Linked DNA regions of Homo sapiens. The protein of the gene in region 1 purifies or fractionates together with the protein of each later gene. This does not show direct contact. Each region holds a gene or a part of one and is shown on either strand. Other genes may lie near its edges.

Evidence for each region. Proteins that work in one complex are often made in the same cells at the same time.
Region 2: the proteins of ADCY3 (region 1) and PTPRA fractionate together in Homo sapiens (co-fractionation; one large-scale study listed by BioGRID). This does not show direct contact.

The regions. Positions count from the first base shown.
Region 1 is NC_000002.12:24,829,736-24,833,241, forward strand, and holds part of ADCY3 (adenylate cyclase type 3), read right to left. Parts: intron 2,626-3,506; exon of another isoform or gene 2,345-2,625; intron 2,015-2,344; coding exon 1,927-2,014; intron 1,091-1,926; coding exon 974-1,090; intron 1-973.
Region 2 is NC_000020.11:3,030,481-3,033,986, reverse strand, and holds part of PTPRA (receptor-type tyrosine-protein phosphatase alpha isoform 1 precursor), read right to left. Parts: intron 1-3,506. UniProt on the Homo sapiens protein: Tyrosine protein phosphatase which is involved in integrin-mediated focal adhesion formation.

The DNA.
Region 1 (3,506 bases):
TGTTAAAGTACAACAATAACATTATATTTGAAAAAAAAGGAAGATAGTGTATATGGTACTACCACAATTAGAGGAGGCCGTGACAACTGACAAGAGAACACTGATGACAGCTCCAGGCATGTAGTGCTCAATACGTGCCCAGTGGTTCTAAACCAATAGATCTGGGCTCCCAACTCCTGTCCCTTTTCCCCAAGAAAGCATTTGGCTGCCCCCTCAGGGAGGAAGAATACACAGGACTGGGACTTAGAACTGCCTCCATTCTGGACTCTGTCACTTCCTGGCTGTGTGACCTAGAGCAAGTGAATTACCTTTTTTTTTTTTTTTTGAGACGGAGTCTTGCTGTCGCCTAGGCTGGAGTGCAGCGGCTCAATCTCGGCTCACTGCAACCTCCGCCTCCTGGGTTCAAGCGATTCTCCTGCTTCAGCCTCCCAAGTAGCTGGGATTACAGGTGTGCACCACCATGCCTGGCTAATTTTTGTATTTTTAGTACAGATGGGGTTTCACCATGTTGGCCAGGCTGGTTTCGAACTCCTGACCTCGTGATCCGCCCACCTTGGCCTCCCAAAGTGCTGGGATTACAGGCGTGAGCTACCGCGCCCAACCAATTACCCTTTTTGAGAGTTAGTTTCTCCCTATGAAACTGCAGATACTGGTACAACTGCTCAGGACTTTTTCACAGATTAAATGAATCAACATACATAAGGTACCTAGCACAGGCCTGGGCACATGGAACTGTGCTCTCGGACTCTGGGAGAGGAGCTTCAAGGAAACAAGTCCATCCCAGAGGCTCCCTGGATGACAGGGACAAGACTCCTTCCACTAGGTGGGGATGATGTGTTTGGGAACCTAAGAGCCACTCCAAAGCTACATGACGGTGGAGGGATGGACTGAGAAACTGCTTGTGTGACCCAAACAGAAGCCCTTCTCCACTGAGAACAGGGGCGTCCCTTCAACAAGGACAGCAGGAGCTCACCATGTCCACGACATTTGCCATCACCAGGATGAAGATGGCGAGCATGGCCCAGGTGTTCCTGGCCCAGCGGGTCCGGTCAATCCAAGTTGAGAAGGCCACAAGCTTCTTAGGAAAGGCCTAGAAGGAACAGAATTTCAAGGGCCATGAGCCTTTGCCAGTCCTTTCTCCTGCGACGTGACTGACAGCAACTCAGGCTGGTCCCGTATTCCAGTCCCAGGAGCCTCAAAACGGACTCTGCCTGGGAGTCACCTGACAGCTGACCAAGGGGCAGAGCTGAGAAGAGGGCGTGGGAGTTCTGACGCTGTGTTGGACCTCCTCGATGTGCCTGTTCAACAGCACAGCCTCCAGGTCGCAGCCCTTTCCACAGCAGACGTGGTGACGAGGTGAGGCCAGGGCAGGAACAGTTTTCAGGGCTGCTCGTCTCTGGCCAGCTACTCCTGCCTATCCTGGCTCCAAGTGACCTGGCGAGCCACCTGTCAGATTTATGTTCCTAAACACTGCTTTACCTTTGTCATTCTGATTAAAAAAAAAAAAAACTCTGCTTGGTACCTCAGTGCCTTACAGGAGAAAGTTTTAATCCCTTTAGTCTGGCTTCTAAGGGCCTTCACCATCGGGGCCAACCCACCTTCCAGCCGGCCCTCCACTTCCTCTCTACCCAGGTTCTTGTTTACCCAGACTCTGCCGTACTCATACGTGCTGCAGCGCCACGGCCCAACAAGGCCCACCACGGCCCAGCCGTGGCCCACCACAGCCTGCCACAGCCTGGTGGCCCAGCCAGAGGGAGTGCTCTGCTGATGGTGAATGAATGGATGGGCAAGTGCCTGGACCGTCCTAACAGAGGAGTGTCTGCCTGTCAGATTTGACAGAAAGAATAACTCCATCACTGCCCAGTTTTACAGGGAGTGCCACTCACTTCCAGAGGCTTCTGAGCTCAGTAGAAAAGTGCCTCTTACCCGGGGAAAGATGGCAGCCAGGGAGCAGATGGTCAGGATGAGGAGCAGAATCTCCCCCACCATGAAGGTCACATAGTTTGTCATTAGCCTGTGACAGAGAGAAGACAATTGGGAGAGGCCAGAGGGGACAGTGAGATGGGGTGAGGGGCTAGGAGAGGAAGGGACGGGGATGGGGGCAGGGGCCAGGGGACAGCGGACAGGGGGCAGGGGACAGTGGACAGGGGCCAGGGGGCAGGGGACAGCGGACAGGGGCCAGGGGACAGCGGACAGTGGCCAGGGGACAGCAGACAGGGGCAGGGGCCAGGGGGCAGCGGACAGGGACTGGGGGCAGGGGCCGGGGGCAGGGGCCAGCAGACAGGGACCGGGGGCAGGGGCCAGCAGACAAGGACCGGGGGAAGGGGGCAGGGGGCAGGGGACAGGGGCCGGGGGCAGGGGACGGGGAGGCCTCTCAGCACAGCACGAGCCTGTACAGCTCCACGCGGTGCCAGGGAATTGCTGCTGCCTGCCGTGCAGAACAGGACAAAGGCCCTGATGAGACGGGCCGCCAGCTGAGTGCCGGCCTGGGAGCGGGCCACTCTCCAGCTGCAGCTGCTGCCTGGGACATTTCCCAGAGAGGGAACAACTCACAGGTGGCCTGGGCACAGCCCAGGATAAACTTGGGCAGGGATCTTAGGAATGCACCCCTGCCATGTCGCTGTGCTGAAAGGACAGAGCACGGAGCAGCATCACTCCCTCGCTGCCGGGGGCTAAGAGTCTGCCTGTGACAGCCACCCCCAGCTTCACAGTGGACACACTCAACACATCCACCTTAACCTGACAACTCCCGGAAACCTGTTCTCTATACCCTCTGCTCACACCCATTCCCGTTTAACCCCTCCCTGGAAGGTGTCCTTGCCAAGAGCCCCAGAAGCCTCCTGGTAGCTAAATCCATGTCCCATTTTCAGTCACCTCTCACCCCTCCTTGAGACACTTTTCTCGCTTGGTTTCTTGAGTCCTTTTCTGTCTCTGCATCTGGACACGCTGCCTTGAGCTCAGCAAGTCTCGTGTTGCAGCACAGCCTGCATGCTGGTGATGCCAGGTTCACGTCTCCAACCCCACCCGCCCTCCAAACTCCAGATCATGGATGCTGGCCTCCTTGGCTTGTGGGCACTGCAAACTTCACGTGTCCCAAAGCAAACTCCTGATCTTTGCCTCTCCACTCTCATCTTTCCACCTTGTCCCCATCTTGGTTAACGGCACCCCCGTCCTGCCAGTTGCTCAGATCAGAAGCCCAGGAGACATCCTCAACTCCACACTCACGCCCCACAACCAATCTGCCAGCAAATCCTGTCAGCTCTGTCTCCAAAATACATTCAGCATCTATCGACGGAATCCAACCACTGATCCTCCTCTATCCTCGGCCTGGCCTGGCCACCACAGTGGCTTGTCTGGGCCGCTATTTGGTCTCACTGCTCCCGCTGTGCTCACTAAGCGCTGTTCTCAGCAGGAGTGAGCCTCTCCAGGCATATGTCACAACAGGGGACTCCTCTGCTCCCTTGTTCTGGCGGCCTCCTGTGTTAAGAGTGGAAGCTGGCACCCTG
Region 2 (3,506 bases), on another chromosome or scaffold:
AAAAGTCTCTAAATTTTGTATACATGGGCGGATTTTCTCTCAAGATCTCTGGAAGACCAAAGAGGATTTTTTTTTTTTTTTTTTTTGAGATGGAGCTTCACTCTTATTGCCCACGCTGGAGTGCAATGGCGCGATCTTGGCTCACTGCAACCTCCGGCTCCCGGGTTCAAGTGATTCTCCTGCCTCAGCCTCCCCAGTAGCTGAGATTACAGGCATGCATCACCATGCCCGCTAATTTTGTATTTTTAGTAGAGACGGGGTTTCTCCATGTTGGTCAGGCTGGTCTCGAACTCCCGACCTCAGGTGATCCACCCGCCTCGGCCTCCCAAAGTGCTGGGATTACAGGCGTGAGCTGCCGCACCTGGCCTCAAACAGGATTTGTAAGACAAGGAGTGACAATGATTTATATTTTCAAAAGGACCAGCAGCTGCCATTTGAAAAACTAAAAGTGGGTTAGGATGAGAGCAGGAGGACCAGTTGCCAGGCCACTGCAGACGAGGCTGCGCATATGAGTCATGCCCACAGTCCCACGGGCAAGCAGTGAGAGACGAGGGCTTGTTCAGATGACAGCAGTTACGCTGGAGAAAAGTGGGGAGGCTCTGCCTGTATCAGGACTCAGTGGCAGACTGGATGTGAGGGGTGAGGAGAGGGGAGGAAGGAAGGTAACTCCCGGATTTTAGACATGAGCAACTGGGCAGAAGGTGGTACTATTTATTTAGATGGCTAAGAGTGGGGTGGACTGGTGTCGGGGGAAGGAGGAAATCAGGAGCCCACATTGGGAAGGGGGACAGGTGACTGGCCTAGAGACGCAGATTGAGGATCCCTGGCATATGGGTTGTACTTAAAGCCATAGGACTGGCTGAGATCCTGAAGGGCTAGTGTGTCAAAAGAAAACAGAGTGGGCTAGCGCCCGAGTCTAGTATACTCCAATGTTTTAGAGGAGGAGGTCACAAAGAAATAACAAAGGAGCTGCCAGGTTAGTGAGTGGGGTGATGCTACGGAAGTAAGTGTTCTGAGGAAGAGGAGGGAGGTACTGACTCTTTCAAATGCTGCTGTAAGGACAAAAAAAAAAAAATCAGAAAAGAGAAATGACCTTTGGATTTGGCAAGAGGACAGTCACTGGTGATCTTGACTAAAGCAGTCCCAGTGGGGCCAAGCCTGGAAGGAACAGAGCGAACAGAGAACTTGCAGGGAGAAAGCCAACTCTTTTTTTTTTTTTTTTGAGATGGAGTCTCACTCTGCCACCAGGCTGGAATGCAGTGGCGCGATCTTGGCTCATTGCAACCTTCAGCTCCCTGGTTCAAACGATTCTCCTGCCTCAGCCTCCCGAGTAGCTGGGATCACAGGCATGCACCATCGCGCCCAGCTAATTTTTGTATTTTTAGTAGAGATGGGGTTTTGCCATGTTGGCCAGGCTGGTCTCGATCTCCTGACTTTGTGATCCGCCCACCTTGGCCTCCCAAAGTGCTGGGATTACAGGCGTGAGCCACCGCGCCCGGCCGAAAGCCAACTCTTTAAAGGAGTTTTGCTGGGAAGGGGTGCAGAGAAATAGGATAGTAGGTGGAAGGGAAAGTGAGATTAGCAGATTTTTTGTTTTTAAAAGATAGGAAATGTAACATGTATAGGCTGATGAGAGTAGTGGTTAAAGAGGGGAACTGCTGATGGAGGTGGGAGAGAAGATGGTTATAGCAGCAACATCCCTGAGCAGGCAGGACGGAATGGGGCCAAGAGCACAGTGGACAGGTGGATTGAGAGATGCAGAAACCCTTTTCCACTGTAACAAGAGAGAATAGAGTTGGTACAGATTTGAAGAGGCTGGTTGTTTGGGGGTGGGAGGATGACAGTGTTCTTGTCTGATTTCTTGGAGAAGAATGAGGCCAGGTCACAAGCTAAGGTGTGAGTATGATGGGACAGGCAAGAGCAGATGCTGGAGGTTTCAGGAAGAAAAGAAAGAGCAATAGCATTGCTAGGTGGCACCAATTACCTCTATGAGATTTGTGGTCATGAGTTCAGTGTGAGAGCATTTGGCACTGTTTTGTGTTTTTGCCCAGTGATGTTTGCTATATCAGATAGAGGCATATAACTGGGTTTTACTAGAGAGTTTGCTATGAAAGTAAGAAAGCATGAGGGAATAAGGAAAGGTAATAATGACATACCACAAAAACTCAAATCAGAAAACTCAAACGCTCAAAAACAGAACTCAAAAACACACAGAGTAAGGAGGAAGGTGAGGACATGTTCGGTGTGACTGATGTTGAGAAAGTGGAGGCATCAATAACTCTAAGGACTTGATGAAGACAAAAATGACTGGAATAAAAGAGAATACTGAGGTGGGAGGAAGGAGGCAGTAAACAGGGCGGATGCCTTGTTGAGATTCCAAGGGCAGTGCAGATACAGGGCAGATGGTGACTTGACCATGGGATCAGGTGGCTGAGGAAGCTGAGGAATAGAAAGATTGAGGATAGATGGATCATCCACATGGTGACTGATGCCTCCAAAAGCAGAGTCAGGAACAGGGGCTCAAAAGGAGCAGTAAGCCAGGTGTTAAAGTCATCAGTGGGTGAGGGACAGAAGATGGGGAATGGGGATTCAAGACCAGTAGAAGAAAAGCTGGGGACTGGAGTTTCATCTCAGATTTGTGTGTTCACGTTACGGCCTCTAGATAATAGCATCTTAAAGAAGTGAAACAGGGAAGGTTTTCTGTCTTTTCTCCTACTTTGTCTTTCCACCAGATAGCATGAAGTCTCTTATGTCTTATGTCTCTTATGAGGTCTAAGGCGGACATGGTGATGGGGACACACAGCTTTGTGAAGACTAATGCTATCAGGTTTCACTATGCTTTAGAGAAGCAGGATGAGGCCTAGGGTTGGGCTAGGCCTAGGGTTGACCCAGCATGGGAGTTCCTGGCACTGCTCTGTCTGCCCAGGCTGATGATGGTCCAAGCTGCAGCTGCTGAGGGAACCCAGGCATCCTGGTGGACCCTTTTGATTAAAATAGAGCAGAAGGAGGCCAGGCGCAATGGCTCATGCCTGTAATCTTAGCACTCTGGGAGGCTAAGGCGGGCGGATCACTTGGGGTCAGGAGTTTGAGACCAGCATGGCCAACATGACGAAACCCTGTCTCTACTATGGAAATTAGCTGGGCATGGTAGTGCATGCCTGTAATCCCAGCTACTCGGGAGGCTGAGGTGGGAGAATCACTTGAACCCTGGAGGTGGAGGTTGCAGCGAGCTGAGATTGTGCCACTGCACTCCAGTCTGGTGGACAGAGTGAGACTCCATCTCAAAAAAAAAAAAAAAAAAAAAAAAAAAGCAGAGGGAGATAATTAAAAATTTTTAATTCCTTCGAGATTTTAATTTGTAAGTACAGAATTTATATTATGGGATCGAATTTTTTTCTCTGGGAACTTAATATTGTAGGTGAGGATGGTAGTGTCACTGTATAAGTGTAGGCACCTTTCATTGCATCATTTAGGCTTAGTGCGTTAATTACTTCTGGGAGCTACAC